Linked DNA regions of Homo sapiens. The protein of the gene in region 7 purifies or fractionates together with the protein of the main gene of each other region. This does not show direct contact. Each region holds a gene or a part of one and is shown on either strand. Other genes may lie near its edges.

Evidence for each region.
Region 1: the proteins of C9orf78 (region 7) and EIF2B3 purify together in Homo sapiens (affinity purification with mass spectrometry, with the first as the bait; one large-scale study listed by BioGRID). This does not show direct contact.
Region 2: the proteins of C9orf78 (region 7) and PRPF8 purify together in Homo sapiens (affinity purification with mass spectrometry; 4 studies listed by BioGRID and IntAct, with this or other methods). This does not show direct contact.
Region 3: the proteins of C9orf78 (region 7) and AAR2 purify together in Homo sapiens (affinity purification with mass spectrometry; 3 studies listed by BioGRID and IntAct, with this or other methods). This does not show direct contact.
Region 4: the proteins of C9orf78 (region 7) and EFTUD2 purify together in Homo sapiens (affinity purification with mass spectrometry; 3 studies listed by BioGRID and IntAct, with this or other methods). This does not show direct contact.
Region 5: the proteins of C9orf78 (region 7) and ELOA purify together in Homo sapiens (affinity purification with mass spectrometry, with the first as the bait; one large-scale study listed by BioGRID). This does not show direct contact.
Region 6: the proteins of C9orf78 (region 7) and PRPF6 purify together in Homo sapiens (affinity purification with mass spectrometry; 2 studies listed by BioGRID and IntAct, with this or other methods). This does not show direct contact.

What each region holds. Positions count from the first base shown.
Region 1 is NC_000001.11:44,853,523-44,857,999, reverse strand, and holds part of EIF2B3 (translation initiation factor eIF2B subunit gamma), read left to right. Parts: intron 1-192; coding exon 193-296; intron 297-4,477. UniProt on the Homo sapiens protein: Acts as a component of the translation initiation factor 2B (eIF2B) complex, which catalyzes the exchange of GDP for GTP on the eukaryotic initiation factor 2 (eIF2) complex gamma subunit.
Region 2 is NC_000017.11:1,653,381-1,657,857, forward strand, and holds part of PRPF8 (pre-mRNA-processing-splicing factor 8), read right to left. Parts: intron 3,382-4,477; coding exon 3,268-3,381; intron 3,186-3,267; coding exon 3,012-3,185; intron 2,164-3,011; coding exon 1,970-2,163; intron 637-1,969; coding exon 397-636; intron 304-396; coding exon 162-303; intron 1-161. UniProt on the Homo sapiens protein: Plays a role in pre-mRNA splicing as core component of precatalytic, catalytic and postcatalytic spliceosomal complexes, both of the predominant U2-type spliceosome and the minor U12-type spliceosome.
Region 3 is NC_000020.11:36,242,369-36,246,845, forward strand, and holds part of AAR2 (protein AAR2 homolog), read left to right. Parts: intron 1-2,328; coding exon 2,329-2,558; intron 2,559-4,477. UniProt on the Homo sapiens protein: Component of the U5 snRNP complex that is required for spliceosome assembly and for pre-mRNA splicing.
Region 4 is NC_000017.11:44,888,804-44,893,280, reverse strand, and holds part of EFTUD2 (116 kDa U5 small nuclear ribonucleoprotein component), read left to right. Parts: intron 1-4,477. UniProt on the Homo sapiens protein: Required for pre-mRNA splicing as component of the spliceosome, including pre-catalytic, catalytic and post-catalytic spliceosomal complexes. Component of the U5 snRNP and the U4/U6-U5 tri-snRNP complex, a building block of the spliceosome.
Region 5 is NC_000001.11:23,753,229-23,757,705, reverse strand, and holds part of ELOA (elongin-A), read right to left. Parts: intron 3,607-4,477; coding exon 3,451-3,606; intron 3,344-3,450; coding exon 3,246-3,343; intron 1,864-3,245; coding exon 1,683-1,863; intron 1,433-1,682; coding exon 1,321-1,432; intron 754-1,320; coding exon 581-753; intron 1-580. UniProt on the Homo sapiens protein: SIII, also known as elongin, is a general transcription elongation factor that increases the RNA polymerase II transcription elongation past template-encoded arresting sites.
Region 6 is NC_000020.11:63,990,719-63,995,195, forward strand, and holds part of PRPF6 (pre-mRNA-processing factor 6), read left to right. Parts: intron 1-2,688; coding exon 2,689-2,767; intron 2,768-4,197; coding exon 4,198-4,374; intron 4,375-4,477. UniProt on the Homo sapiens protein: Involved in pre-mRNA splicing as component of the U4/U6-U5 tri-snRNP complex, one of the building blocks of the spliceosome.
Region 7 is NC_000009.12:129,829,268-129,832,987, reverse strand, and holds part of C9orf78 (splicing factor C9orf78), read left to right. Parts: intron 1-1,014; coding exon 1,015-1,092; intron 1,093-1,919; coding exon 1,920-2,117; intron 2,118-3,446; coding exon 3,447-3,583; intron 3,584-3,684; coding exon 3,685-3,720. UniProt on the Homo sapiens protein: Plays a role in pre-mRNA splicing by promoting usage of the upstream 3'-splice site at alternative NAGNAG splice sites; these are sites featuring alternative acceptor motifs separated by only a few nucleotides. May also modulate exon inclusion events.

The DNA.
Region 1 (4,477 bases), on a different chromosome or scaffold from region 7:
TCTGGATTTCTCTGAAGCCAGGTCCTCCCTTGGCTTACCATTCTGTCTTCCACTGATAACTTGAGGCACGTAGCCATTAACTGGACTGCCCAGCTGTTCCTGGCCTAGGGAGGAGCCAGAACCCCCAACCAATAGTAATGAGGATGGTGATGCGAGCCTTGGGTCCTCCCTAACTTGGCTACTGTGTTACAGAAGCAATATCCAAGGCAGTGTCATCTGCAACAATGCTGTGATCGAGAAGGGTGCAGACATCAAGGACTGCTTGATTGGAAGTGGCCAGAGGATTGAAGCCAAAGGTAAACCAGATTACAATCACAGATTCCATTTTTACTTCTCACACCAGCACTGATAATGCCAAAGGCTGGTGAGGATGTGGGAAACAAGCACATACGTACACTGCGGGCGAGAACATAAATTGATAAAGCCATCTTTGGAGAGCAGTTGACATCACTGTCAATTTTTTTTTTTTTTTCGGAGTTTCACTCTTGTTGCCCAGGCTGGTGTGCAATGGTGCAATCTCAGCTCACTGAAACCTCCGCCTCCCGGGTTCAAGCGATTCTTCTGCCTCAGTCTCCTGAGTCGCTGGAATTACAGGCATGTGCCACCACGCCCAGCTAATTTTTTGTATTTTTAGTAGAGATGGCGTTTCTCCATGTTGGTCAGGCTGGTTGCGAACTCCCGACCTCAGGAGAACTGCCCACCTCAGCCTCCCAAAGTGCTGGGATTACAGGCGTAAGCCACCGCACCTGGCATCACTGTCAAATTTTTTTACTTTGACTTAACAGTTTCATTTCTAGAAATTAATCTTATAGATAAGCTTATACATGTATGCACCCTTAATCTCAAAACCTTGAAAACATATCAATAGATCTAATGGCCCAGGTTGGCACCAATACTGTACAGTGATTCTTGAAGCCTAGGCACAGTGGTTCATGCCAATAATCCCAACACTTTGGGAGGCTGAAATGTGAGGATCGCTTGAGCCTAGACAACATAGCAGGAACCCATCTCTACAAAAAAATTAAAAATTAGCCAGGCACAGTGGCACACACGTGTTGTCCCAGCTACTCAAGAGGCTGAGGCAGGAGGATTGCTTGAGCCTGAGAGGTCAAGGCTGCAGTGAGCTGAGATCGCACCACTGCACTCTAGCCTGGGTGACAGAGGGAGACCCTGTCTTAAAAATAATAATAAAAATTAAAATGACTGATTGCTTTTGGTATTATTCCTAAACCTAAAATAAGGTGGGGAGGGGAGTTGCTGAAGGAATTAACCCCACCAACTCTGTAGACGCCACATCATTTCCTTCTTCAGTTTCTTCCCCCTTCCCTTTTTTAAAGTCATATGCCTTCCTTTTGGGCTTTAGAATCAAACAGACCTCAGTTCACATCTCAACTCAACTTAGTGGCTGTGCACCAAGTGAAATTTTTAATCATTAAGCCCTCAGATTTTCCTTTTTTTTTTTTTTTTTTTTAATTTTAATTTTTTGAGACAGAGTCTTGCTCTGTCGCCTAGGCTGGAGTACAGTAGTGCTATCTCAGCTCACTGCAGCCTCCTCCTCCTGGATCCAGGTGGTTCTTGTGCCTCAGCCTCCCGGGCAGCTGAGACTACAGGGGCACACCACCACCCTTGGCTAATTTTTGTGTTTTTAGTAGAGACAGGGTTTTGCAATGTCACCCAGGCTGGTCTTGAACTCCTGGCCTCAAGCAAGCCACCCACCTCACTTTCCCAAAGTGCTGAGATTACAGGTATGAGCCACTGCGCCCAGCCCCAGATTTTCTTAATTAGACAATTGGGACAATAATAGCTACCTTGGAGAATTGTGAGAATTACATATAATTAAATGACAGGTATATGCACTACTCCTTGAGTGTACCAAAAGACTTAGAATTCCTCATACATACCGTGCCATTATACCTCTCCATGCTTTTACATGTGCTCTCTCTAGATTTCCTCTCTTGAAGACTCCGACCAAGTGTTTTCTCCTTTGTAGAACCTTCTCTGCCTCTTCCCATGACTCCCCATAGCAGAACTACACATTCCTTCCACTGTGTCCTTGAGCTTTGCCACACCTTTATTAAAGTATGTTTCACAAGCCATGGCAATTATCCGTGAATCAGCCTTCCCTACTAAGATCCTCAAGGTCAGCTGGGCATGATGGCTCACACCTGTAATCCTAGCACTTTGGGAGGCCGAAGTGGGCGGATCACCTGAGGTCAGGAGTTCGAAACCAGCCTGACCAACATGGTGAAACCCCGTCTCTACTAAAAATACAAAAAATAGCCAAGTGTGGTAGTGCATGCCTGTAATCCCAGCTACCTGGGAGGTTGAGGCAGGAGAATTGCTGGAACCCAGGAGGCGGAGGCTGCAGTGAGCTGAGACTGCACCACTACACTCCAGTCTGGGTGACAGAGCAAGACTCCATCTCAAAAAAAAAAAAAAGATCCTCAAGGTCGATTGTCTCATAACTATATGCATCCCTAGCTCTCAGAACAGGTCCTGATTTATGGTAAATGCTCAGAAGGGGAAAAGAGTGAATGAATGAATGTTGGATCCATGAAACATATTTTGGGGGATTTCAGGGTATAAAGTTAGGGTTCCAAGAAAGGCCTCTGTGCGATGGTTGCAATCATCATGAGATGGGCTTCATAAACTCCTGGGCTTTCTGGCTTTAATTAACACTATGTGTCCACCTTTTAGCAAGGAGACCCTTTAATGGTCCTGCTGAAGGAGGGCTGGCCAGGGAAGTCATCTTGTCTGGGCTCTAAACTGGACAACCCCACCACTTCCTTCTCTCTGTCCTCTGCTGGAAGGACCAGTGCATCCAGCACAGTGGTCAGTGCCCTCCTGCCACAGGAACTCCCTGGCCAGTTGCCTTTTTCCACTATTACTTCTTCTTTTTTTTTTTTTTTTGAGACTGAGCCGTATGGTGAAAGCAAACTCCTAACCATCAGTGCAGCACTCAAGACTTGTTACTATAGGTGACCTAGGCAAACACCAACAACTCACATCCTTACCAGCAAAGAGCTCAATAGATGGCAAAGTCTTCCGTCAGTCTTCCTCACATGAAGGGGTTTCAGGAAAAAACATTCATCCTAAGAAATAATGCAGTCTCAGCCGGATGCGGTGGCTCATGCCTGTAATCCCAGCACTTTGGGAGGCTGAGGCGGGTGGATCCCTGTGGTCAAGAGTTCGAGACCAGCCTGACCAACATGGAGAAACCCCATCTCTACTAAAAATACAAAAAATTAGCCGGGCGTGGTAGTGCATGCCTGTAATCCCAGCTACTTGGAAGGCTGAGGCAGAAGAATTGCCTGAACCTGGAAGGCAGAGGTTGTGGTGAGCTGAGATCACGCCATCACACTCCATCTTGGGCAACAAGAGCGAAACTCCATCTCAAAAAAAAAAAAAAAGACATAATGCAGTCTCCTCTCCAAATTCTAATCATTTTCATGCTCCAGAGTCACCACATCCATAGCAGTCTTTTTCCCCAAAAGTATGGCTCGTAACTCAGTGTAGGCCTCCCTACCCTCTTCTAGCACCAACACGAAAACAAGCCATTTTATAACAACTCTGACTTTTCTCACCCCATCCCAATACTCTCATTGGTTATCTCTGGCAAAAATACTGGCAGCCAAATTTGACCTTCTCAAGCAGTAGAATGGCTACAGCTAACAGTCAAAACCTAAAAAATGGCTGGGTACAGAGGCTGTAGCTCACGCCTGTAATCCCAGCACTTTGGGAGACCAAGGCGAGTGGATCACTTGAGGTCAAGAGTTCGAGACCAGCCCAGCCAACATGGTGAAACCTCATCTCTACTAAAAATACAAAAATTAGCTGTGTGTGATGGCACACACCTGTAATCCCAGCTACTTGGGAGGCTGAGGCAGGAGAATCACTTGAACCTGGGAGGCGGAGGTTGCAGTGAGCAGAGATCATACCACTGCACTCCAGCCTGGGCAACAGAGCAAGACTCCATTCAGAAAAAAAAAAAACAAAAAAAAAAAACACTAACTGCTAAAAGCATGCTTCATCTGAGTCTCTTCTTACAGTCAGTGACAGAACTTGGATCTCTTCCCTATGGCCAGAGTGATCAGTTCTTTGACCATGAAAGTAGACCTGGTATAGGTCAGGCTGTTGATGTATACTTGACACAGGTCAAATCCTCCTGGCCAGCAGGAAGCTTTCCCAGTTTCCCAACAGTGCACCTTTTATTTGTGATGTTTTTCCCTTCTATCCCATTGCTATTTTCCCAACTTATCATCCTCCCTTGTATTTTTCCCCTTGGGATCTTTCCCAACCTGATTCCAGCCCAAAGATTTTCCAGTGTATTTACTGGACCCTACTCCCATCCCTGACCAAGCATCACTAGCTTTGCTTAGTTTTTTGTTTTTTTGAGACAGGGTCTTACTCTGTCACCCAGGCTGAAGTGTAGGTGGCACAGTCACAGCTCACTGTAGCCTTGACCTCCCGGGCTCAA
Region 2 (4,477 bases), on a different chromosome or scaffold from region 7:
ATGGGGCCAAAACCCACCTCGTTGTTTTGGCTATCCTTGTATAATTACTCATCCATGAATCTTGAAACCAGCATCTCAAGTTCCAGACAATCTCAGGTCTGAGTTTTAGGCACAAAATGAGTTGGGCACACACTGTGGCCTAGCTGAGTCCACTTACTCACTTGGGCCCGAAGGTCAGATATGCAGATGAACTTCTTAAGCACATTCTTGGGAAGGATGTAGGTGTAGCCAGTCTCCTTGATGTCGTCAGATGAAACATAGATGTGATTGGTCCTTAGGTGCAGGTTGGCAGCAGAGATGGCCCTAAAAACAGGCAGGGAGTGTCAGCATCGCTCAGCCCAGCACCTTAGGTAGTGCAGCCGGCCTTTCCATCCCCACCCTCTTGCCCGACAGTACCTGACCCTCCACTCAGTCTTGGATGAGAAAGTCTGGGTCTCATAGTTGCTGGTGGTGGAGGTGATGATCTCATCGCCATGCTTGTTGACAGTGCGAGTCTGTGTTGCCGTCAGCTGCGATTGTTCCTTGGTCTGCTTCTCGATCTCAGCGATCTGCTGCCGCTGCTGTGACGGTGCCGAGATCTCCATACCCAGGATGATGTCTCGAATTTCTGATTGTGTCAGTGATGCCACGTTCACACTGTGGGGATGGTGTGGGTTATATTACAAGGATCCCTTCCCCTTGGTCACTTCTGCCTCAATGGAAAGGGTGTAACTTGGTAGGACAGGACAGCCTATACTCACGCCCCAGACAATCCACAAGAGCTGCTTCTACAGGAAGTGTGAAACGGAGGTGCACTAACACTTCCAAGATTCGTCAGATCCAAGCGGGACAGCACACTGCGTGTGCACCTTCCCACTGTTTAGCATCCATAAACCCTACGCTTCCTTGACCAAAACAATGCTCTGGCATGGAACTGTTCTCAGAAATGGAAACCCCAGAAACCCTAGAATACTGGTTCTTAATCAGAGGTGGTATTGTCCGTCACCCTATGGATAATTTTGGTTGCCACGATGACAGGGAGGGAGACGAGGGGAGGAAGGTGTGTGTGTGTGTTGGCAGCAGTCTCGGATACTTAGGGTCTCGGATGTTCAAAATTCTTCCCATGTATGGACAGTAAAGAAATGCCCTGTTTGAAATGGCAACAGTGAGAAACAATGGCCAAGAGTCAGACTGAAGCCCTAAAACAGGGATGCTTCCCATACTATTCGAAGACACTGCTGTATCTCTCTTCCTCGAGACTCTGTAAGATAATTTCTTTCCTTGTTTTCAAGACAAGAGTCTCGCTCTGTTACCCAGGCTGGAGTACAGTGGCATCATCATGGCTCACTGCAGCCTCAAACCCCCGGGCTCAAGCAAGCCTCCTGCCTCAGCCTCCAAGAAGCTGGGACTACAAGCGTGTACCACCACACCTGTTTTAAATTTTTTTTTTTTGGTAGAGATGGCGTCAGTCTCTTGTTGATCAGGCTGGTTTCAACTCCTGGCTCATGCAATCCTCCCACCTTGGCCTCCCAAAGTGCTGGTATTACTAGCATGAGCACTCAAGCCTGGCTAAGACAAGATAATTTCTTGAGAAACGTCTTTTTTTTTTTTTTTTTTGGAGACAGTCTCACTCTTGTCGCCCAGGCTGGAGTGCAGTGGCATGATCTCGGCTCACTGCAACCTCTGCCCCCAGGTTCAAGCAATTCTCCTGCCTCAGCCTCCCGAGTAGCTGGGATTACAGGTAGGCGCCATCGCACCCGGCTAACTTTTGTATTTTTAGTAGAGACGGAGTTTCACCACGTTGGCCAGGATGGTTTCAAACTCCTGACCTCAAATGATCTACCCACCTTGGCCTCCCAAAGTGCTGGGATTACAGGCATGAGCCACCGCGCCTGGCCTTCTTGAGAAACTTCTAAGCCTAAGTGCTTCCAAAAAACCCCAGAAAACCGTATATAGACCTCCTGTCTGTGTCCCCACCAGCACTGCTCACTTGTTTTTCTTGCCGTAGTCAGCCAAGATCAGATCCTTGAGCTGCACCTCGACCTTGATCCATTCTTCGTCAGTCAGAGTGGGCCAGATGTGGTGTGGTTCTGTAATAGTAGTCTTGTCTGGCTTCAGGATCACTTTTGCCCGATCGTTGTTCACATGTAGGGCACGCAGAATCAGGATGAGACGGGAGAAGGCCTGGGAAAAGATTTGGAAGAGTGGGGTAGGTCAGCTGCTTGAGGCTCTCCCACTTTAATCCTAACCTTTCATGAAACCCAAGAATTTTTTTTTTTTCTTTTGAGACAGAGTCTTGCTCTGTCGCCCAGGCTGGAGTGCAGTGGCATGATCTCGGCTCACTGCAAGCTCCGCCTCCCAGGTTCATACCATTCTCCTGCCTCAGCCTCCCGAATAGCTGGGATGACAGGCACCTGCCACCACGCCCGGCTAATTTTTTGTATTTTTAGTAGAGATGGGGTTTCACTGTGTTAGCCAGGATGGTCTCAATCTCCTGACCTCGTGATCCGCCGCCTCGGCCTCCCAAAGTGCTGGGATTACAGGCGTGAGCCACTGCGCCCGGCCTTTTTTTTTTTTTTTTTAGACAGTCTTACTCTGTCGCCCAGGCTGGAGTGCAATGGTGCCATCTCGGCTCACTGCAACCTCTGCCTCCTGGGTTCCAGTGATTCTGGTGCCTCAGCCTCCCGAGTAGCTGGGACTACAGGTGCATCCCAGCACACTCGGCTAATTTTGTTGTATTTTTAGTAGAGATGGGGTCTCGTCATGTTGGCCAGCCTGATCTCAAACTCCTGACCTCAGGTGATTCACCCAACTCAGCCTCCCAAAGTGCTGGGATTACGGGCGTGAGCCACCACGCCCGGCCCCAAGAGTTGATTTTTAACTTTAAGGTCTTAAACTCTCATGAAAGTCAACAGAGTTCCCACCCAATCTATAGGCTAAAAATGTGAAAATGGCAAAAACCTGACACAGGATCTTCTCCTAACCCTAAACCCGCTCCTCCTCCAGCGATCTTCTCTTCCCGAGGTTCATACCGTGTAAGATGAAATAGTCTTGAGCCAGTCGTCATAGAGGTTGAAGAGAACCATCTGGGGCTCAGTGGCTTTAAGGATGAGATCCCCGAATTTTTCCACCTTGAGACACGCCTGGAAAGGGAGTTGGAGCTCCGATCCTTTGATGACAATATTGGGGAAGTCCAGTAAGTGCACCTAAGACAAGATCAAGTCCAAGATGAGAAACAGCCTGAAGGTCTCAAGGTCTCTTTTCTCCTACCCCACCCCACCCTCTTACCTCCAGTGGGTCCAGCATGCCCTTCCTGGTGACAATGATCTGCTTGGGCTGCTCCTCCACAGGCAGAGATCGGATCAGGGCGGCCACCTCCTCAGCTGTCTTCCACTTAGCCAACTTAAAAGCAAGAGAGAAGAAAATGGAAATTTAGTCTCTACCCTCCCAGATCAACTAGAACAGAATATCCTAGTTTTGAAATAATCCAACTACGTTTCTATTGAACACTGATGTTAAATGTTAGGCACTTAGAAGGTACAAAGAGTATCAAATGGCCGTGTCCAATGACCAGGCTGACAGCCCCTTTCAACAAGACAATACCACAAGCTGACACATGAGTATGTGCTAAACTATACACTGTTTTACAGAGTTCAGGAACAAAAGAAATTAAGGCTACTAGGATCAGAAAAAAGCTGCACAAAAAAACGTGTCTTAAGGAGGGACTGTGATTAACAGAGCAAAGAGGGGAGTTCATTCTAGAAAGAAAAATACAAGCAAAACACAGATTTGGAGATGAGCATCAGGGGTTTGGGCTACTAAGATCCTGGACTGAATGTAAGATGAAACATGCTATAAATGTAAAGGAAGAGAAACTGGCTGGACAGATACAGCCCAGCCAGATGTTGAACGTCTAGGAAGCTAAAGAAGAGTTAATTCAGCAAGAGTTGTGAGGTAGAGAAGAGATTTGGTCAAAGTGGATGTTTCAAGAATATGCGTTGCTGGGCCGGGCACGGTGGCTCAAGCCTGTAATCCCAGCACTTTGAGAGGCCAAGGCGGGCGGATCACGAGGTCAGGAGATTGAGACCATCCTGGCCAACATGGTGAAACCCCGTCTCTACTAAAAATACAAAAAATTTAGCCGGGCGTGGTGGCGGGCACCTGTAGTCCCAGCTACTCGGGAGGCTGAGGCAGGAGAATGGCGTGAACCTGGGAGGCGGAGCTTGCAGTGAGCTGAAATCAGGCCACTGCATTCCAGCCTGGGCAACAGAGCAAGACTCCGTCTCAAAAAAAAAAAAAAAAAAAGAGAATATGCATTGCTGGCCAGGAGCAGTGGCTCACACCTGTAATCCGAGCACTTTGGGAGGCAGAGGCAGAGGCAGGCAGATCACAAAGTCAGGAGATCGAGACCATCCTGGCTAACACGTTGAAACCCTGTCTCTACTAAAAAATACAAAAAAAATTAGCCAGGCGTGGTGGCGGGCGCCTGTAGTCCCAG
Region 3 (4,477 bases), on a different chromosome or scaffold from region 7:
TGTTGTTGTTGTTGTTGTTGTTGTTGTTGTTGTTGTTGTTGAGACGGAGTCTTGCTCTGTCGCCCAGGCTGGAGTGCAGTGGTGTGAGTTCGGCTCACTGCAAGCTCCGCCTCCCGGGTTCACGCCATTCTCCTGCCTCAGCCTCCTGAGTAGCTGGGACTACAGGCGCCCGCCACCACGCCCGGCTAATTTTGTTTTGTATTTTTAGTAGAGACAGGGTTTCACCATGTTGGCCAGGATGGTCTCGATCTCCTGACCTCATGATCCACCTGCCTCAGCCTCCCAAAGTGCTGGAATTACAGGCGTGAGCCACCGCACCCAGCCTTTAACAGGTACATCTTAATGCATTAGTATTTTCGTATAATAAGTAACTTTTAAAAGTCTGGCTTAAAAATGAATAGAAATCCTGTCTTTCTACCTCTTAAACATTTCAATTCTTCAAAATATATCTTGCGAAAAGGTCTGTTACAGGAATAACTTTGTTGGTTTTTTTTTTTTTTTTTTTTTGAGACAAGGTCTCACTCTGTGACATGGGCTGGAGTACAGTGGCATGATCACAACTCACTGCAGCCTCAACCTCCTGGGCTCAACTGAGCCTCCCACCTCAGCCTCCCAAGTAGGTGGGACTTCAGGTGTGTGCCACCACGCCCAGCTAATTATTTTTGGTTGAGATAGGGTCTCCCTGTGTTGCCCAAGCTTGTCTCAAACTCCTGAACTCAAGCAATCCTCCTCCACTGACCTCTCAAAGGGCTAGGACTATCCCTGCCACCGCACCTGTCCAGGGATAATTTTGAATCTACATCACACCTCTTTGAAAAATATAATTTAATTTTAGATAAAGTCAGAAATGCACAAATTTAATAAATGTCCTAAACGCAAATAATAGGCTAATATTTAGTTTCACAAACCAAGTAAAGCCAGCTGAAGAAGCAAATCATTAACCTATATTATACAAAGAAAATTTGACTATATTTGAAAATATTGGTCAGAAATCCAAAATTTCTAAACCAGGTAGCTATTCACACAAATCAAACTTAGTTCCGTATGCTTAGGAACAGGGAGCTAGTTTTTCCAGGTCTCTGGAGGTGGCACAGATCAAACGCCATGCATTTAAAGAGGTATTTGGTGTTGAGTACATCTCTTCTTTTTATGGCCCACATGTATGTATACCTCATTAAATTTCCAGCCACCTTTGAAGTAGAGAGAATGCCTGTGATGAGGAGCAGTATTCTGTGGTAACCAGAGACCCAGTTACTTGCCCAGGGACAGTGGTGTCTGGATCATCAGGTCTCTGTTTGAGATGGGCATCTGATAGAAATTGGGAACATAATATTTTTTGAGTGCTACTTTGTGCCAGGTCTTATTCTAAATGCTATACATGTACTATATCCATTCATGTAATCTTTGCTACAACCCTCAAATAAGGAAATTGAGGCCTTAATAGATTGAGTAACTTGCCCAAGGTCACACAGCTGCTAAGTGGCAGAGCTAAGATTTGAAGCTAGGCAGTTTGGCTCCAGAGCCCATGCTCTTAGCCACCAAGCTGCTCATAGAGATTAAATCACAGAGCCCTGTGGTTAAGCAAACAAAAATAATCTGCCTGGCAGGCTGACCCTGGAATAAGTACTCATGAATTTTTCTTTTGTGGGAGGTTCCAGAACTGTTCCCACCCAATGGAGAATCTGTTTTATCTTTCCGTTGCCCACATTGTGAAGCATTAGATGTGTGGCCTTGGGCAAGCCCTTGACCTTATCTATGAAATGAGGCAAATACCATCTTCCTGATCGCCTTGTGGAGTTGGGCTGAGGGTTACATGGTATAGTGCAGTATTTCCTGACCCTGGAGCAGACCATCCACATTAGAATCACCTGGGGAGCTTGTTAGAGCTACAGATACGAAGGCCCCATCATCTCTCCTCCACCAGAACCTCTGAGGGTGAAGCTTGGGTAGCTTTACTTTTAACAGACTCTCAGTGATTCTGATGGGCAGCCAGGTTTGAAATCCACTTGGCATAATATCCATGAACACATTTTGTAAACTTAAAATGCCAGGCAAATACTGGGAATACCTCTTCTCTAGCAGTCTGATTTTATAGAAATCCAAAGCCACAGGTTGGTTTCCCATGGCTTGAATTCATAGCGGTTCAGCAGACATCTATTGAGTACCTGTTAGGTGCAAAATCTCCTGCCAGGCTCTGCAGGAGTGACAAGGATAAAAGCTCATCTGTTGCTGAGGTCCAGTGGAATTCATGGCCTTGTGAATAGTGATGGAGAGTGTCAGCTGGTCCTCCTCTCCCTCAGAATCACTTCTCCTCTCTGCACCTTTCAGGTGAACTCCAGTTTGCTTTTGTGTGCTTCCTGCTGGGGAATGTGTACGAGGCATTTGAGCATTGGAAGCGGCTCCTGAACCTCCTGTGCCGGTCAGAAGCAGCCATGATGAAGCACCACACCCTCTACATCAACCTCATCTCCATCCTGTACCACCAGCTTGGTGAGATCCCCGCTGACTTCTTCGTAGACATTGTCTCCCAAGACAACTTCCTCACCAGCACCTTACAGGTGAGCAGTCTTTCTGACTGAGCTGATGCACATGTGGGTCAGAATTGAGGCAACAGTATGTGTTTTGTTTCTCGCTATTCTTCCATGACCCCAAAATTTTTAAATTTCAGTTTCCTAGTCTTGGGATATTTCCTGCTTTTCTCTCTCTTACTCAATTGTAAGTGCCTCTATGCCAGAAATTTTCTCTCTGTACCACCCTCTCCCTACACCTCGTCCCCAGAGTGCCTAACACTGGGGTACTTGGATTTGAATTCCTCCCACTGCTTTGGTTTACTCAGCTTAAAACAGCGTTTCTTTCTCCCTGTAGCCATGAATTGCTACAACCCAGTAAAGCAGAATTTTGAAGTTTGTTATTCCCAGTGAAACATCTGCAGCTCCTTAGATCTCATTTAAGCATTAAAATAACTTTGATTTCCTGTTCAAACAAAATGTGCCAGTTTCTGCAGAGATTCTATGACAGAAAAAGTGAAATTTGCTTTTAACTTGGCAATTAAATTTTCATTATGAGTGGTAATTAGGAAAGAAGCTTCAAACAACTTACAATCTTCATCCTATGCTATTTCCTCCCTTTGCAAACAGATTAGTCCTTTATGTACTTGGGACAGCCTCTGTCACTCACATTGTGTAACTTTCTCAAGAATAGAAGAGGCAGAAGCTGCCACTGTCAGTTTCCATACTTTCCCTCCCATGAGCTTCTTTCTTCTCCCTGTGTGTAATACCCCCATGAGGCCTGCTCCATATAAGGCAGCCTTTCACCAACCTTCCAATCCCACTCGGGGTAACAGAAGGGACGAGCATTCGTTAAATATTGGGGCTGGGCGTGGTGGTTCATGACTGTAATCCCAACACTTTGGGAGGTGAAGGCAGGAGGATCACTTGAGCCCAGGAATTAAAGACCAGCTTGGGCAATATAGTGAGACCCCGTCTCTCCAAAAATTAAAAAATTGGCCAGGTATGGTCATGTGCACCTGTAGTCCTAGCCACTTGGGAGGCTGAGACAGGAGGATCACTTAGCCCAGGAGTTTGAGGCTATAGTGAGCAATGATTATGATCGTGCCACTGCACTCCAGCCTGGGCAACAGAGTGAGACCCTGTTCACTCATTGAATCCCTTTGGAGCCTTGTAAGATGGGGGTATTATTCCCATTTTACAAATGGGAACACTTGAGAATGGTTAAATCACTTACTTGAAGTCATACAGCTGGCAGGTGGAGGTCAGGATTTGTACCCAGGCCTGAGTCTTGGTTTCCTGCCTGTGCTTATGCCCTTGTGTAGTGAACACAGTGTGAATCCCCCAGAAAGGATTCTTGATTGACATCAGTGAAGACTTCATCGAGGTCCTGTTTCTCAGAGGTACAGAACGCTTTTCTAAAGCCAACCTACTGTTGGATGAGTCCCTGTGAGCAGGCATCTGACTTAAAGCTGGCAGTTGAAGGACCTGTGTAAACCATGGCAATGAGTCAGTCAAGCGCATGATTTGAGCCTGGTCTGTTCCACTCAGAAGAGCTATAAAACTGTCCTTTTACTGGTTCTTCATATAACAGAGAAATTAAACCCCTTTGTCCTTCCTCTGTGGGGAAAATTTTCCCCAAAGGTACTGGTTATGGGTTGTGAGGCAGTGTGAGGAGGCATTAGCCTGCTAACTTGCCTCTGGCAGTGGCTGCTTCCCTCCTGATGCACGTTGATGCGTCGCACAGACACAGGAGGGCCACGGTGTTGCTGGCTGTCCAGACCATTGTTAGCACAACCAGCAGCTGAGCTCTATAATTGCCAGGCTTTGTTGCCAGCAATGATTTACAAAGCAGAAAGTGCCCAGCTGGATTGCTAGATGCCCAGGTGGGTTGTGCAAAGCTGATGGTTGGAAACATTCAGTCTTTGAACTTTTCACCAAGAAAATTCGATGTCATTATTTGGAAAAAT
Region 4 (4,477 bases), on a different chromosome or scaffold from region 7:
CTTGTTGGCGCGTGCCTGTAGTCCCAGCTGCTTGGAAGGCCGAGGCAGGAAAATCACTTGAACACGGGAGGCGGAGGTTGCAGTGAGCCAAGATTGTGCCACTGTACTCCAGCCTGGGCAACAAGAGTGAGACTCGGTCTCAAACAAAAAAAAAAAAAAATGACTGTTGAGTACTTAGGAAGCTAGCATGAGTTTTATAAAAATAATTTTCTCTTGATAGGATTACTAGGTTGAGCCACAGGTCAGGGGCATGCTGTGGACATGATGTATCTTGATTTGGGCAAGACATTTGAAGTTTTTTATTGATGTCTTATAAACCAGCATTTTTTTTTCTTTTTGAAAATAAGGTTTACAGTCAGGTGTGGTGGCTTACGCCTGTAATTCCAGCATTTTGGGAGGCTGAGGCGCTTGAGCCCAGGAGTTTGAGACCAGCCTGGCCAACATGGTGAAACCCCGTCTCTACTAAAATACAAAAATTAGCTGGGTGTGGTGGTACATGCCTGTAATCCCAGCTACTCAGGAGGCTGAGGCAGGAGAATTGCTTGAACCCGGGAGGTAGACGTTGCAGTGAGCTGAGATCGAGCCACTGCTCTCCAGCCTGGGTGACACAGCGAGACTCCATCTCAAAAAAAAAAAAAAAAAAAAAAAAGGTTTTACAGTGTGTTTTTCTTTAATTATATAGGTAATTCATGAATACATTCTCATTCAAACCATGTTGATAGAAAGGTTTCCTTTGTTCTCATTCCATTCACTCTTCTTCCCCAGTTAACCTCTGTAACTCATGATGTCCTAGTGAAAAGAACATGGGCTGCATCATAATACAATTAGAGGAGGTCACAGCTGGTTGAACAGTGGGACACAAAGATTTTTGATTAATGGGTCACCAGCAGAGCTCTTGTGACATGTCCTAGGCATCTGTGTTTGGTCTTGTCCTTTTCAACTTAAAATATATTTAAATAGAGACAAGGTTTCACTATGTTGCTCAGGCTGGTGTTGAACTCCTGGGCTCAAGCAATCTGCCTGCCTTGGCCTCCCAAAATGCTGAGATTACATAGGGGAACCATTGTGCCCCGTCATTCAGCCTATTAGTGACTTGGGTAAAGATAGAGAACAGAGGTTTATCTAATTTGCACATGACATAAAACTAATGTATTGGATAACAGAATCTAAATTCAAAGTGATCCCAACATACATGAATTTGGGACTAAAAACCCAGTAATAGGCCAGGCGTGGTGGCTCACACATGTAATCCCAGCACTTTGGGAGGCTGAAGCGGGCAGATCACTTGAGGTCAGGAGTTCGAGACCAGCCTGGCCAACGTGGTGTGAAACCGTCTCTACTAAAAATACAAAAAATTAGTTGGGTGTGCTGGTGCGCGCCTGTAATCCCAGCTACTCGGGAGGCTGAGGCAGGATTTTTTTGTTGGGAGTGAGGGCAGGTGGAATTGGTAAGTAACAGAGTTTCTTTTTAGGGTGATGAAAATGATCTAAAATTGATCGTGGTGATGGTTGCACAATTCTGTGAATATACTAAAAACTATTATGCACTTAAAATGGATAGATTGTATGGAATGTGAATTATATCTCTATAAAGCTATTAACAAAAAAATTTTTAAAATAAAGAATAATGGGCTAAACACTTAGTGGCTCACACCTATAACCCCAGCACTTTGGAAGGTCAAGGCAGGAGGATCACTTGAACCGAGGAGTTTGAGACCAGCTTGGGCAATGTAGTGAGACCCCATTTCTACAAAAAATTTAAAAATTAGCCAAGCATGGTGGTACATGCCAGTAGTCACAGCTACTCAGGAGACTGAGGCAGGAGGATGGCTTGAGCCCAGGAATTTGAGGTAGTGGTGAGCTATGGTCATGCCACTGCACTCTAGCGTGGGCAACAGAGTGAGACCCTATGAAGGTTTTTACCTCAGTACAAACAGTTGAGTCACTCATACTCTTTAGTTCTTACTCCTCAGTGTCATTGCTGTGAGAGCTCTGCTGTTATTTAATTAATTTGTTAATTCCCATTTATCTCATTCCCATACCTGCCACCACAGTTCTTTGTAATTTATGTATGTTTCTTTTTCTATGAGTTGCATAGTGTGTGTGTATTTTAAGTAAATGGTATCATTGTCTGCATTGTTCTGTTTCTTTTCCCACTCAGCATCATGATGAGTGGTGCATTTTAGGGTTTCTCCCTGTTGCTGTGTGTACATCTAGTCTGTGGGAACTGACTGCTACTCGGTTTGCCCTGGTGACATTCCTCTCTTAGTGATAGACACCAAGGTTACCTGTCACCAGCCTTCCCTCGCCGTAATTAATAATCCAGTGTACATTCTCATATGTGTCCCTTTATGCAATGTGGAAAAATTTCTTTGGGTTATATTCCCAAGAGCAGAGTTGCTGGTTGTAGGATATTATATCTCTATCTACATATGCTTATTGTATTTATACTTAGTTAATATGTTTATACTAAGTACTGTCAGATTGCCCTTTAAAATGGCTGTACTGGTCTACCCTCTTTCCAGCAGAATGAGGGTTATAGCCTCCTAGTCCACAAGATGCATAGATTTATTATTATTGTTATTTTTTGAGATGGAGTTTCGCTCTTGTTGCCCAGGCTGGAGTGCAATGGCATGATCTCGGCTCACTGTAACCTCCACCTCCCGGGTTCAAGCGATTCTCCTGCCTCAGCCTCCCGAGTAGCTGGGATTACAGGCATGTGCGTCCACGCCCGGCTAGTTTTGTATTTTTAGTAGAGATGGGGTTTCTCCGTGTTGGTCAGACTGGTCTCGAACTCCCAACCTTAGGTGATCTGCCCGCCTCAGCCTCTCAAAGTGCTGGGATTACAGGTGTGAGCCACCGCACCTGGACAGATTTTTTTTTTTAATTATATTGAGGTATATAACAGTAGAGATGCATAGATTTTGGTAATGGGGACAGGAAAGAAAGATGTCCCTTCTAAGGCTGGGTGCGTTGGCTCATGCCTGTAATCCCAGCACTTTGGGAGGCTGAGGTGGGCAGATGACCTGAGGTCAAGAGTTCGAGACCAGTCTGGCCAACGTGATGAAACCCTGTCTCTATTAAAAATACAAAAATACAAAAATACAAAAATTAGCTGGGCGTGGTGGCATGCGCCTGGGTGGCATGCCCAGAGGCTAAGGCAGGAGAATCTCTTGAACCCAGGAGGCAGAGGTTGCAGTGAGCTGAGATCGCGCCACTGCACTCCAGCCCCGGCAAACAAGAGTGAAACTCCATCTCAAAAAAATAAAAAAATTAAAAATTAGAAAAAGCAATGATAAAAGAATATTTGTTTAGTTTTATTTGTTTAGACTTGTTGAGCTACTGTAGACTCGGATAGAGATAATTACAGGCAGTCAGAAATTATTATATAAAATCCTGCAGTTAGATTCATAATATATTCAGCAGTATGGGGCAGGAGAAAACTGGCTTGATAGCTATTTGGAGCCACCACCAGTAGGATATATGTGGCTGCCAAAAGAGCTAATGTAATCTTAGGCCACTTTAGTAGAAGTAGAGTGTAAGATGGTAGGAGGTAGCCGGTCTCACCACTGGAGGGTTTTGTGTTCTTAAGGAAGAGGTTGGCATGCTGGAATTTGTGTGAAGGAAAACAAGCACCCAGCAGTCCCTCTACCCACCTGCCTACATCTGTACTCATATACGATGCCTTCCCTTCCGTTCTTACGAATGATTTGTTCATGTTTCTGTCTACTAGAAACTAATCCCATCCCTTCTCACCACTCAAGACCTTTGGCAATTCTGCCCTCTCTCTCCTGTGCCATCAGTTTTCCCTGTCTACAGGATCATCCCCATCAGCATACACAGATAAAATGTCATTTCATCCTAAAACTCTCTCTTGACCCCATATCCCCCTTCATTTACCTCCAGATTTTCCCTGCTTTCCAATGCAGCACATCCCGAATTAGGTGGTCATGGTTGCTGTCTCCAGATCCTCTCCTCCCATTTTCCTTCAAACCCACTTCCATCCTTTTGCCTCTCGCATTCCACAGACTGCTCTTGTCAAGGTCACCACTGACCTCTGCCTTGCGAAATCCCAAGGTCAGTTCCCAGTCCTCAGCCCACATGACCTGCCTGCATCCGTCTGTCCCAGCCGATCATTCCCTCCTCTTTAAAATACTCTCTTCCTTTGGCTTTCAGAGAACCCCTGGTTTTCCTCCGCACTGACCATCCCTTCTCAGCCTTTGCTGCTGCTTCCTCATTATCTCCCTGACCTCCAAATGTCAGCAGGCCCGGGGCTCCATTCCTCAGACGTCTTCTCTGTCTACACTCACTCCTCTGGGGATCTCATCCAGTCTATCAAATAACTTTATGACGACTCAGATTTGTATCTCCAATCTGGACTTTTCCCTTGAATGGCATGTTTGTATGTCCACCTTCCTACATGGCATCTCTACTTAATGTCTAACAGGGAATCTCAAGCCTGGCGTTAACTCACACCT
Region 5 (4,477 bases), on a different chromosome or scaffold from region 7:
AACATGGTGAAACCCCGTCTCTACTAAAAAATAGAAAAAATTAGGTGGGCATGGTGGTGGGCACCTGTAGTTCTAGCTACTTGGGAGGCTGAGGCAGGAGAATGGCATGAACCTGGAAGGCAGAGCTTGCAGTGAGCTGAGATTGTGCCACTGCACTCCAGCCTGGGTGACAGAGCGAGACTCCATCTCAAAAAATCCTCCCACCTCAGTCTCCTGAGTAGGTGGGACTACAGGTGTGTACCACTATGCCCTATTTTTTAATTTTTTGTAGAGGGTCTCATTATGTTGTCCAGGCTGGTCTTGAACTCCTGGATTCAAGGGATCCTCCTGCCTCAGCCTGCCAAAGTGCTGGGATTACAGGCATGAGCCACTGCACCCAGACTCACTATAACTATTTAAGAGATATAATGCACTATGGACAAAGCAGGGGGAAGGAGGGACTGACATTCAGACCAGCTATGTGCAAGGCATCATGTACATGCAACATGCAGTCCACAAAATGTAATACAGTGAATAATGACATTGAGAGTTAAAAACTAGTGCTGAAATAATATTTGAGCAGGAACTCCAAGTTACTTACTCTTCACAGTGGGTTTCCTAGGATCATAGGAAACAGTGCTGCTGACCACTGGTGCCAAGTGGGCACTGCTGGTGCTTGGGCCATCATAGGCCGGCTCCTCAGGGCTGGGGTTAAAGCTGATGCTACTGGCGGAAGCATGGCTGCTTCCCATGGGGTACGGGGCTGGCTTGATCCTGCAACACAGGACAACACTGGTTAGGCATGAGCACAAGAAATCTGCCCTGAGCATGAACAGCCTGAAGCTGGCCTGTGTGAGGATGACTCACCCTGTTTGTGGCTTTGACCAATGGACCCTATCACCCTGGATTCTGGTGGTGGCTCAGAGATGTCTCCATTATCCTTTCAGAAAAAATGATAATCTCAACTAACTTTTCACTGTTTTGGTATAAATCTGTATTTTGAAAAGGCTAATGTGGCTTAGACAAAATAACAATCATTGCAGAAATGTGTTTTTTGTTTAGATGGGAAAAGGGAAAGCATAAGGGAATGTTTCCCATAAGCCAGGCTTTGCTCTCCATTTAATCTTGACTACCCTAGGGCAGGGGTAATTATCACCTTGCACTGCAGTCCAAGAAGCGGAGGCTGAGGGAGGTGAGGGAAGTGCTGAGCTGATGAGGTCTGCCTCCAGAGCCCACAGTCTGCACTGCCTCACTTTCACCAAAAGCAATTTGCTTCCTGCCGCTATGGCTACCTCTAAGGGTTGATAGCACACAAAAGCCAGGTAAGAACACAGATCTTACTTGATTTTCTCAGGGACAGCTGCTCCTCCCGTTCCAAACTTTTCCTGCCTCCTCCGGACGTCACGAGGTGGCTTGGCCACAGAGTTGACAAAGGCCATCTTTGCTTGTCGGCCTGTGGAATTATGGAGATGAACATCTGCCTTCTTGAGCAGAGATGCTACTGTTATTTAAATAATCCACGGGCTTTTTGAGTGCCCTGAAACCCCACTTGTAGGGTAGAATGGGCGGTGGCAGAAGAAATACCCACCCTGCTACCTGATGTAGGGGCAAGCAGTCCTACACCAGCCAAGCCCACCAACACCCTGCTATTGACCAGAACACTCATCCTGCCAGTTCTCCCCCAGCTCTCCCGTCTCTGTTACCTTTGGGCTTATTGGCATGTGCGAACTGGATATTCTTTGTTAGTACTCGTAGCCGCTGCTCTCGGGCGTCCTGAAGCCGCAGGTACATCTCTCGCCACGACTCATACTCTTCGGGTCTTTCTTCCTTAAAGTCTCGGTGACAATGAACTTTCCATAATTGATCTGTTTCTTCAATTAATACCTGAAACCAGAACCAGGACATCATTTGTGTACAAGCACTTTTCCATATTTTTTTTTTTTTTTTGAGACAGAGTCTTGCTCTGTCGTGTAGACTGCAGTGCAGTGGTGCAATTTTGGTTCACTGCAACCCTTGCCTCCTGGGTTCAAGCGATTCTCACGCCTCAGCCTCTCAAGTAGCCAGGACTACAGGTGCTTACCACCACGCCCAGCTATTTTATATTTTCAGTAGAGATGGGGTTTTGCCATGTTGTCCAGGCTGGTCTCGAACTCCTGACCTCAGATAATCCGCCCACCTTGGCCTCCCAGAGTGCTGGGATTACAGGCGTGTGTCACCATGCCCAGCCTCATATCTTTTTCTGATTATTTAATTACCTAGGAGTGACCAGTTTCCCAAAAATTTTTTGGTCTTCATCTTAGTAGTATGTTAAAATACCACAATTCTAGGAAAAAAATAACTCCCTAAATTTTAAAAATGCGAAGTGTGAGGCACTATGCTAGTTGCTTTTGGTGGCTGTGACAGAATATCACAAAAATCTGTGTAACATCAGTCTTTTCCTTTAGAAAATCAGCAAAGGGTAGAACTGCGATCAAGTCAAATCAGGTACTTCCCAACACTACGCTGAACTGTGATGGCAAAGGGGCAACCTAAGAAGGATGTTAAGTTATTGGCCAGGCGCGTTGGCTCATGCCTGTAATCCCAGCACTTCAGGAGGCCAAGAGTCTGAGAGTCCATCTCTCTAAAAAATAAAAATATTAGCCAGCTGTGGTGGTATGTGCCTGTAGTCCCAGCTACTTGGGAGGATCACTTAAGCCCAGGAGTTCAAGGATGCAGTAAGCCATGATTAGGCCTCTGTACTGCAGTCGAAGCAACAGAGGTAGACCCTATCTCCAAAAAAAAAAAAAAAGGTGTTAGGTCATAGAACTTTCAGAATTAAAGAGAGACAGCTGATGCAATCAAATGTGTATACCCTACATCCTAAGGAGGATTCTGGATAAATCTTGATGTTTCTTAAGAGACATCCAGCCAATCACCAGATGTCAGAGTGTCAACACAAAGTGCTTTCCCCGCCCTGGGTCCCAGCTACTCTGCTGCCAGAATTCTCCCTTTACCTTCATGACTAGGCAAGCTCAAGGGAGATGTTAAGTGTTTTTCTTCTCCCTTTGAATCCCACCCTGATCCTAGCCCAAGAGGCCCACTTAAGGTGCCAGGAGCAAGTGCTAATAACATGCTTGTTTAAAGGCCCAGTGGCAAACCAAATATATCCAGAACAATGCTCTGACCACTGATCTGCCCTTCAGCCACAGCGGAGTCACAGGGACAAAGCTATTTCTGGAGGTACAAGCCAGAAAACTGCCCTCTTCCCACCCAAACAGAATACTCACATGATTGTATTCCTCTATGCGATACAGCTGATCAGGTGTACACCTCTCCAAAACGGGTTCAAGAACAGAGTATGGGACTCCTCCCACTTCAAAGATTGCTGCAGAGAAACCAAAGGTGAAGACACTGAGTAGCAGCCAAGCCACCCAGTGATAAGGTCCAAGTGCTACAATGTGCTTGAGAGCTAGAGAGAAGCGTGTGACTTACAATCGATGTTGTTTTTAAGTACTCGGATGCATTGCTGGTGCAAGGTCATCATTTTAGGGAGATAGGCACACTTGGAACCAGAATACACCTGCATCTTGGAATTCATTCTGCGCCCAGTAAATCCAGCTTCTTCTTCTTCCTGGGGTGAAGAGAACGCTATAGGGCAAGAAAAACACAAAAGGCCCTAAGTGATCCAGTGAAAACTCTCCTTCTACCCCCTTCAGCCTCCTACTTCCCTTTCCCAATGGCAATCCACGCTACAGATTTTTGTAGATCCTTCCAGAGAATTTAAAAATAAGCTCCTGTAATCCCAGCACTTTAGGAGGCCAAGGCACATGAATCATCTGAGGTCAAGAGTTCGAGATCAGCCTGCCCAACATGCACCTGTAGTCCCAGCTACTCAGGAGGCTGAGGCAGAGGAATTGCTTGAACCTAGGAGGTGGAGGCTGCAGTGAGCCAAGATGGAGCTACTGCACTCCAGCCTGAGTAACACAGCAAGACTCTCAACAGCAACAACAAAAAAAAGCAAATGTATCTTATTCCTTTTAAGCCAATGAATCAATTAATAACATACTCACTACATACATTGCTTTTTTTCATTTGCCACATCTGAGAGATCATTCCATGTCAGTGCATAGACTTTCCACATTTTTTTTTTACTGTGGCATAGGATGCCACTGTGTAGATGAACCATGATTTATCTGTTAGTCTCCTGCTGATAGACCCTTATGTGGCTTCTACTTCTTTTGCTATGAAAATTAGACATTTTTTTCTTTCAGACAAAAATCCTATGTAACACATAGGATAAAGGGCTGCTAATAACAGCAGCAGCAATTTACTGAACAATTACTATGTGATAAACCCAGAGCAAAAAGGCATCACTTCTGAATTCATTAAACTGAGCCCTATGGGGCAGATACCATTATAACTCCCATTTACACAATATATACAACTAAGGTCCAAAGAAATTAAGATATTTCTCAAGGTCATATAACTTGCAGAAACCAGAGTTGGGATTCAAACCCAA
Region 6 (4,477 bases), on a different chromosome or scaffold from region 7:
ACTGCAACCTCCGCCTCCAGGGTTCAAGTGATTCTCCTGCCTCAGCCTCCCAAGTGGCTGGGATTACAGGCATGCACCGCCACGCCCGGCTGATTTTTGTAGAGATGGGTATTTTTAGTAGAGACGGGGTTTCACCAATGTTAGCCAGGCTGGTCTTGAACTCCTGCCCTTGTGATCTGCCTGCCTTGGCCTCCCAAGGTGCTGGGATTACAGGCTTGAGCCACCACGCCAGGCTCACACCCAGCTAATTTTTGTCTATGTTGCCCAGGCTGGTCTTGAACTCCTGGCCTCAAGTGATCCACCTGCCTCCCCTAACCTTGGCCTCCCAAAGTGCTAGGATTACAGGCATGAGTTACTACACTCAGCCCTACATTTTAAAAATTGATTGGAACCTCCAGGGTTAATGCATTTTAAAAAACATCAGGCTGGGTGCAGTGGCTTACATGTGTAATCCTAGTACCTTGGGAGGCCAAGGCAGGAGGACCACTTGAGTCTAGGAGTTCGAGACCAGCCTGGGCAACATGGTGAAACCCTGTCTCTACAAAAACAAAATTAAAATTAGCCAGTTGCACATGCCCGTAGTTCCAGCTACATTCCCAAGGCTGAGGCAGGAGCATCGCTTGAGCCTAGGAATTAGAGGCTACAGTGAGCTATGCTTATGCCACTGTGCTCCAGCCTGGGCAACAGACCAAGGCCGTGTCTCTAAAACAAAAACAAAACAAAAAACAGCAGGTGACACGGACCCATGAAGAAAGCCATTAAATTAAATGTTTTTAAAAAGTAGTGTACTTGGCCGAGCACGGTGGCTCACACCTATAATCCCAGCACTTTGGGAGGCCGAGGCGGGCAGATCATGAGGTCAGGAGATCGAGACCATCCTGGCCAACATGGTGAAACCCCGTCTCTACTAACAATACAAAAATTAGCTGGGTGTGGTGGTGCATGCCTGTAATCCCAGCTACTCAGGAGGCTGAGGCACGAGAATCACTTAAACCCAGGAGGCGGAGGTTGCAGTGAGCTGAGATCGCACCACTGCATTCCAGCCTGGTGACAGAGTGAGACTGTCTCAAAGAAAAAAAAAAAAGTAGTGTACTTATTAAAACTTTTTATTCTGAAAACTGTCGTAATACAAACAAGTAGGAAGAACAGTACTGTGAATACCATATCCTCACATGTAGTCTCAACACCGAAGTGCAATTACATGGGTTATGTTCTGGCACATAGAGCTGTGCAGCTGAGCTGAGTTGGTTAGAGGTGAACTATTTACTTGGAAGAGAAGGAAGCAAGGAAGGAAAGGTGGGATGAGTTCAGTAGAGTGTTTGGAGTGTTTGGTGGTAACTAGGATAGTTACTGTTTTTCCTTGTAGGTGTTTTTTTGTTTTGTTTTGTTTTGTTTTGTTTTGCGACAAGGTCTCGCTCTGTCGCCCAGGCTAGATTGGCTCACTGCAACCTCCACTTCCTGGATTCAGATGATTCTCCTGCCTCAGTCTCCCAGGTAGCTGGGGATTACAGGTGCCCACCACCATGCCCAGCTAATTTTTATTTTTATTTTTATTTTTTTGAGACGAAGTTTCACTCTTGTCACCCAGGCTGGAGTGCAATGGCATGATCTTGGCTCCCTGCAACTTCCACCTCCCAGGTTCAAGCAATTCTCCTACCTCAGCCTCCTGAGTAGCTGGGATAACAGGCATGCGCCACCACGCCTGGCTAATTTTCATATTTTTAGTATAGATGGGGTTTTACCACATTGGCCAGGCTTGAACTCCTGACCTCAGGTGATCTGCCCACCTCGGCCTCCCAAAGCGTTGGGATTACAGGTGTAAGCCACCACGCCTGGCCTTCTTAGGTGTTTATGGGATGGTCCTACCTTTGGGATTTTGTGAATTTTCAAGCAGTAAATATACACATGTCCAAATGGAGGTATTTAGATCAAAGTAAGATCTTTTTTTTTTATTTTAATGAATTTCTACATGTTTTTATTTGGTGGATAATTGAATTAGTAGACTTACGAATGTATTTATATTTATTTATTTAGAGGCAGAGTCTCTCTGTGTTGCCCAGGCTGGAGTGCAGTGGTGCGATCTTGGCTCACTGCACCCTCTGCCTCCTGGGTTCAAATGATTCTGCCTCAGCCTCCCAAGTAGCTGTGATTACAGGTGTGTGCTACCATGCCCAGCTAAGAATGTATTCATAGTTACCTTAAAATATATTTGATTTGGGCTGGGTGCGGTGGCTCACACCTGTAATCCCAGCACTTTGGGAGGCCAAGGTGGGTAGATCACAAGGTCAGGAGTTCGAGAACAGCCTGGCCAGGATGGTGAAACCCCGTCTCTACTAAAAACACAAAAATTAGCTGGGAGTGGTGGCGAGCACCTGTAATCCCAGCTACTTGGGAGGCTGAGGCAGGAAAATCACTTAAACCCAGGAGGTGGAGGTTGCAGTGAGCTGAGATTGCGCCACTGCACTTTAGCCTGGGTGACAGAGCAAGACTCCATCTCAAAAAAAAAAATGTGTGTGTGTGTGTGTGTGTGTGTGTGTGTGTGTGTATATGTATATATATATATATATATTTGATTTAGCTACTAAGAGTATGGAATTGTTCTTTTTGGTGATTTAATTGAGATGGATAATAAATTTGCTTCAGAACAGACATGCAGTGTTTCTGATGTGTGCATGTTTTATTTCCTAGGGAGCAAAGGGAGAAAGAAGAAATAGAGAAATATCGTATGGAACGCCCCAAAATCCAACAGCAGTTCTCAGACCTCAAGGTGAGCCGATGAAGCGGTGAATGGTGTGCGGTTTCTAACGCTCTCACCCTAACCCGCAGAGACTCAGACTGCTCTTACGTGGAATTTATGAGACTTTACGTTTTTAATTTAGGGGGTCATTGCTTAGAAGAAGAAAGTGTTTGCTTCAGTATGTTTAATTATATGTGTGTAAAAAAAAACCCTTCCCCTACTGTAAAAGGTAGGACAAATGAACTTATTTTCTTTGTAATTTTGACTCCATTTATACCTAAGATTTTCTTTTTTCTTTTTTCTTTTTTTTTTTGGAGGCAGTCTGGCTCTGTTGCCCTGGCTGGAGTGCAGTGGCGTGGTCTCAGCTCACTGCAACCTTCACCTCCTAGGTTCAAGCAATTCTTGTGCCTCAGCCTCCTAAGTAGCTGGGATTACAGGTGCCTGCCACCATACCCAGCTAATTTTTGTATTTTTAGTAAAGACAGGATTTCGCCATGTGTACCAGGCTGGTCTCAAACTCCTGAACTCTAGTGATCTGCCCACCTCAGCCTCCCAAAGGGCTGGGATTACAGGCGTGAGCCACCACGTCTGGCCCCATTTATACGTAAGATTTTCTAAACTGTGTCCCCTGGGCTTTGAGAGAATAATTTACATTTTAGTGAAGTTGAACAGATCCAATAAATTGATTTTTCTTTTCTTTTTCTTTTTTTTTTTTTTTTGAGACGGAGTTTGGCTCTTGTTGCCCAGGCTGGAGTGCAATGACGCGATCTCAGCTCACCGCAACCTCCGCCTCCCAGGTTCAAACGATTCTCCTGCCTCAGCCTCCCTAGTAGCTGGGATTACAGGCATGTGCCACCATGCCCGGCTAATTTTGTATTTTTAGTAGAGATGGGGTTTCTCCATGTTGGTCAGGCTGGTCTCGAACTCCCGACCTCAGGTGATCTGCCCGCTTTGGCCTCCCAAAGTGCTGGGATTAACAGGCATGAGCCACCGTGCCCGGCCTAAATTGATTTTTCTAAGTGAAGTAGAAAACTATTTTTGGGGCTGGGTACAGTGGCTCACATCTGTAATCTCAGCACTTTGGGAGGCTGAGGTGGGAGGATCACTTGAGCCCAGGAGTTTGAGACCAGCCTTGGGGAGAACCTGTCTTTACAAAAAATAAAAACTTAGCCAGGCATGGTGGCCCACGCTTGTGGTCCCAGCAACTTGAGAAGCTGAAGTGGGAGGATCACTTGAGCCTGGGAGGTTGAGGCTGCAGTGAGCTGTGATTGTGCCACTGAATCCAGCCTGGGCAACAGAATGAGACCCATCTCAAAACAAAAGTAAAAAACAGTTGCTGCATCCAAATCCCTTCTAAAGCTTGGTGATCTGGAGGCTAGGGGTGAGAGAGGGCATGGTCCTACCTGGGCACATGAAATTCTGTCAGAGAATTAATGTTTTTGGGGGCTGGATATTTCCAGAGGAAGTTGGCAGAAGTCACAGAAGAAGAGTGGCTGAGCATCCCCGAGGTTGGCGATGCCAGAAATAAACGTCAGCGGAACCCACGCTATGAGAAGCTGACCCCTGTTCCTGACAGTTTCTTTGCCAAACATTTACAGACCGGAGAGAACCATACCTCAGTGGATCCCCGACAAACTGTGAGCTTCCAAAAAAGGGCACATGTGGCCCATTTAGTCCTGTTAGATCAGTGGCAGGAATGGTGGGTGGTGTTGGATTCAATGCTTCTGCAGGTCATGGCTA
Region 7 (3,720 bases):
TACACACACGCATATATATATGTGTGTGTATATATCTGGGTGTGGTGGCATGTGCCTGTAGTCCCAGCTATTCAGGAAATTAAAGTGGGAGAATCACTTGAGTCAGGGAGGTTGAGGCTAGAGTGAGCCGCGATCACACCACTGCACTCCAGCCTGGGTGACAGAGAAAGACCCTGTCTCAAAAAAATAAAATAAGTGAACCTATGGGGAAGTTTCATATAAAAACAATTAACAAAAATAATAAATTCAGGCCAGCTGCGGTGGCTCATGCCTGTAATGCCAGCACTTCAGGAGGCTGAGGCAGGCGGATTACCTGAGGTCAGGAGTTCGAGACCAGCCTGACCAACATGGTGAAACACTGTCGCTATTAAAAATACAAAAGTTAGCCGGGCATTGTGGTGGGCACCCGTAATCCCAGCTACTCAGGAGGGTGAGGCAGGAGAATTGCTTGAACTCGGGAGGCAGAGGTTGCAGTGAGCTGAGATTGCGCCACTGCACTTCAGCCTGGGTGACAGAGTGAGACTCCGTCTCAATAAATTAATAAATCAAACATTCAAATAATTCAAAAATTAAAAAAATAAAAGTTTACTGTGTACTTTTGTGACAACTATATAGCATTTACATTGTATTTGGTATTATAAGTAATCTAGAGATGATTTAAAGCAGATGGTAGTGTGTGTGTAGGTTAGATGCAGATATTATACTATTTTATGTAAGGGACTTCACTATCTGCAGATTTTGGTATCCTTGAGGGACACTAGAACCAATCCCCCATGGATACCTAAGGATAAGTGTATCCACTCAATCCTTGGAGGTATCACTAGCAGCCAACAGTTTGCTTGCATATATTTCTAGAGTTTCTTTTCTTTACATATACTACGGCATTTTTTTTTTTTTGCCAACTGTAAATAGGATATTATAAATGCTTATGTCTTTGTTTTCTTCTTAGAACATAAAACTCAGCCTCATTGAGTTGTGACTTGAAAGCTCTGCCTCATTGTTCTCTCCCTCCAGGATCAGTGAGGAGGAGGACCTGCACCTGGGGACATCGTTTTCTGCAGAAACCAACCGAAGGGATGAGGATGCAGACATGTAAGTGTCAGTCTGTTTGGCTGTGAGCAGTTGGGGCTGGACTCCAGTCAGAGTCCAAGATATTTAGTCAACAGATGACATTTCTAGAATTTTCTAGAAGATGTCAAAGTTGGCCCCTCTCTTTCTACTTCCCAGCTTAAGAACTTTGAAAACCTCTTAAAAGGTCTTTTCAGGCCGGGCACGGTAGCTCTCACCTGTAGTCCCAGCACTTTGGGAGGCCGAGGCAGGTGGATCATCTGAGGTGGGGAGTTCGAGACCAGACTGACCAACATGGAGAAACCCCGTCCCTACTGAAAATACAAAATTAGCTGGGTGTGGTAGTGGGCACCTGTAATCCCAGCTACTCGGGAGGCTGAGGCAGGAGAATTGCTTGAACCTGGGAGGCAGAGCTTGCGGCGAGCCAAGATCTCGCCATTGCACTCCAGCCTGGGCAACAAGAGTGAAACTCCGTCTCCAAAATATAAAAAATAAAAACTTGTTTTCAAAGGTGGTTTCATGACTAGTAATATTTCCCCAAAACATTGCAGGGATAAAACATGGGCTTGCCCACTTTTTATTTTGCCAACAAAGCTATTGGCAAACTATCATCTTTCTGTCTTCAAAGAACCTTGTACATCATAACACCAATAGATTAGTGGGACATAACCTCATAGGTTGGTGCTTCTTTAGAAAATTTCTAACTTGATGAAAAAACTCAAGTTATTTTTTTTCTCGTTTCTCCATGGACTGTCACTGGTCTGCGGGCCAGTGTTGGGGACCACTGATTTAGAGGACACCTGGTGTGTGTTTCCCACCCCTCCCTGAGGCCTCTGGGTTTCTCACTTCAGGATGAAGTACATTGAGACAGAGCTAAAGAAGAGGAAAGGGATCGTGGAACATGAGGAACAGAAAGTTAAGCCAAAGAATGCAGAGGACTGTCTTTATGAACTTCCAGAAAACATCCGTGTTTCCTCAGCAAAGAAGACCGAGGAGATGCTTTCCAACCAGATGCTGAGTGGCATTCCTGAGGTGGACCTGGGCATCGAGTATGTTTGAGACCCCTAGGCAGAAGACACAGTGCTTTCCAGTTAAAAGTTATGGGGGACAGGCCAGGCACGGTGGCTCATGCCTGTAATCCTAGCACTTTGGGAGGCTGAGGCGGGTGGATCACGAGGTCAGGAGTTCAAGACCAGCCCGGCCAAGATGGTCGAACCCCGTCTCTACTAAAAATACAAAAATTAGCTGGGCATGGTGGCAGGCACCTGTAGTCCAGCTACTTGGGAGGCTGAGGCAGGAAATTGCTTGAACCCTGAAGGTGGAGGTTGCAGTGAGGCGAGATCATGCCACTGCACTCCAGTCTGGCGACAGAGCAAGACTCCATCTCAAAAAAAAAGGAAAAAAAAATTTATGGGGGACAGGTATGGTGGCTGATGCCTATAAGCCTATAATCCCAGTACTTGGGAGGCCAAGGCAGGAGGATCACGTGAGGCCAGGAGATCAGCCTGAGAAATATAGTCAGACTCCTGTCTCTCAAAAAAATTTAAAAAATTAGCTGGGCTGTCACTTGAGCTCAGGAGTTGAGGCTACAGTGAGCCATGATTGCACCACTGCACACCAGTCTGGGTGACAGAGTAAGACCCTTTAAAAAAAAAAAAAAAAGGCCAGACATGGTGACTTGTGCCTGTTATCCTAGCTCTTTGGGAGGCCAAGGTGGGAGGATCACTTGAGCCCAGGAGTTCAAGACCAGCCTGGGCAATGTAATGAGACCCCATGTTCTTATCTGTGTCCTTAGAATCCTACAAATACAAATGAGATTGTCCCTGGCAGGTTGTTGCTAGAAGTTTCGCTGAAGGCTTGATCAGAGTAGTAAGGGCCCCTGACTGCTGGAAGCAAAAGTGGTTCTTTAGCGTGTTACAGCTGTTCAGCTGTATCAGGCCCTTTATTCTTCTGTTTTCTTCTAGCAGGAGCCATGTTAAAGGCTCACTCACCCCTTCTCCCCATGATCCTTCTTAAAATATCCACTTTAAAAGGGAATTGTTATGGAAGAGGTACAATTGTTAGAATAATCTTCTGGTACAGTAGAAAGCTGGGAGGCTTCTGGGCTCTTTTCTGGCCTTTACAAACTTTGAGCCTTAAGCATTTTACTTCTCTGAAGCTCAATTTGCTCTTGATCAGAAGAGCAGAGTAACTGTGGTTCTCCGACAGCCGTGAGAGTCCCGTGAGAATGTGACTACAAGTGTGCTTGATAAAGTGGAGAGCTGTGCCCCAGGACACATGATTTTCTTATGTACTGCTGGGCTGCCAGCCTCACCACTCATGTCTGAGTAGTAAGGTGCTATCATCTTCTAAGTGGTGTGGTTTCTTTCTCTCCATAGTGCTAAAATAAAAAATATCATTTCCACGGAGGATGCCAAGGCCCGTCTGCTGGCAGAGCAGCAGAACAAGAAGAAAGACAGCGAGACCTCCTTCGTGCCTACCAACATGGCTGTGAATTATGTGCAGCACAACAGATGTAAGCCCCTCGGAGAGCAGTCTTGCCCCCATTCCCCTATTTGGGCTGAGATCCCTAGGAACCTCATGTTCTAACGTGTCCCCTGGTCTCTTTGGGTCCAGTTTATCATGAGGAGCTCAACGCGCCCATACGGAGAA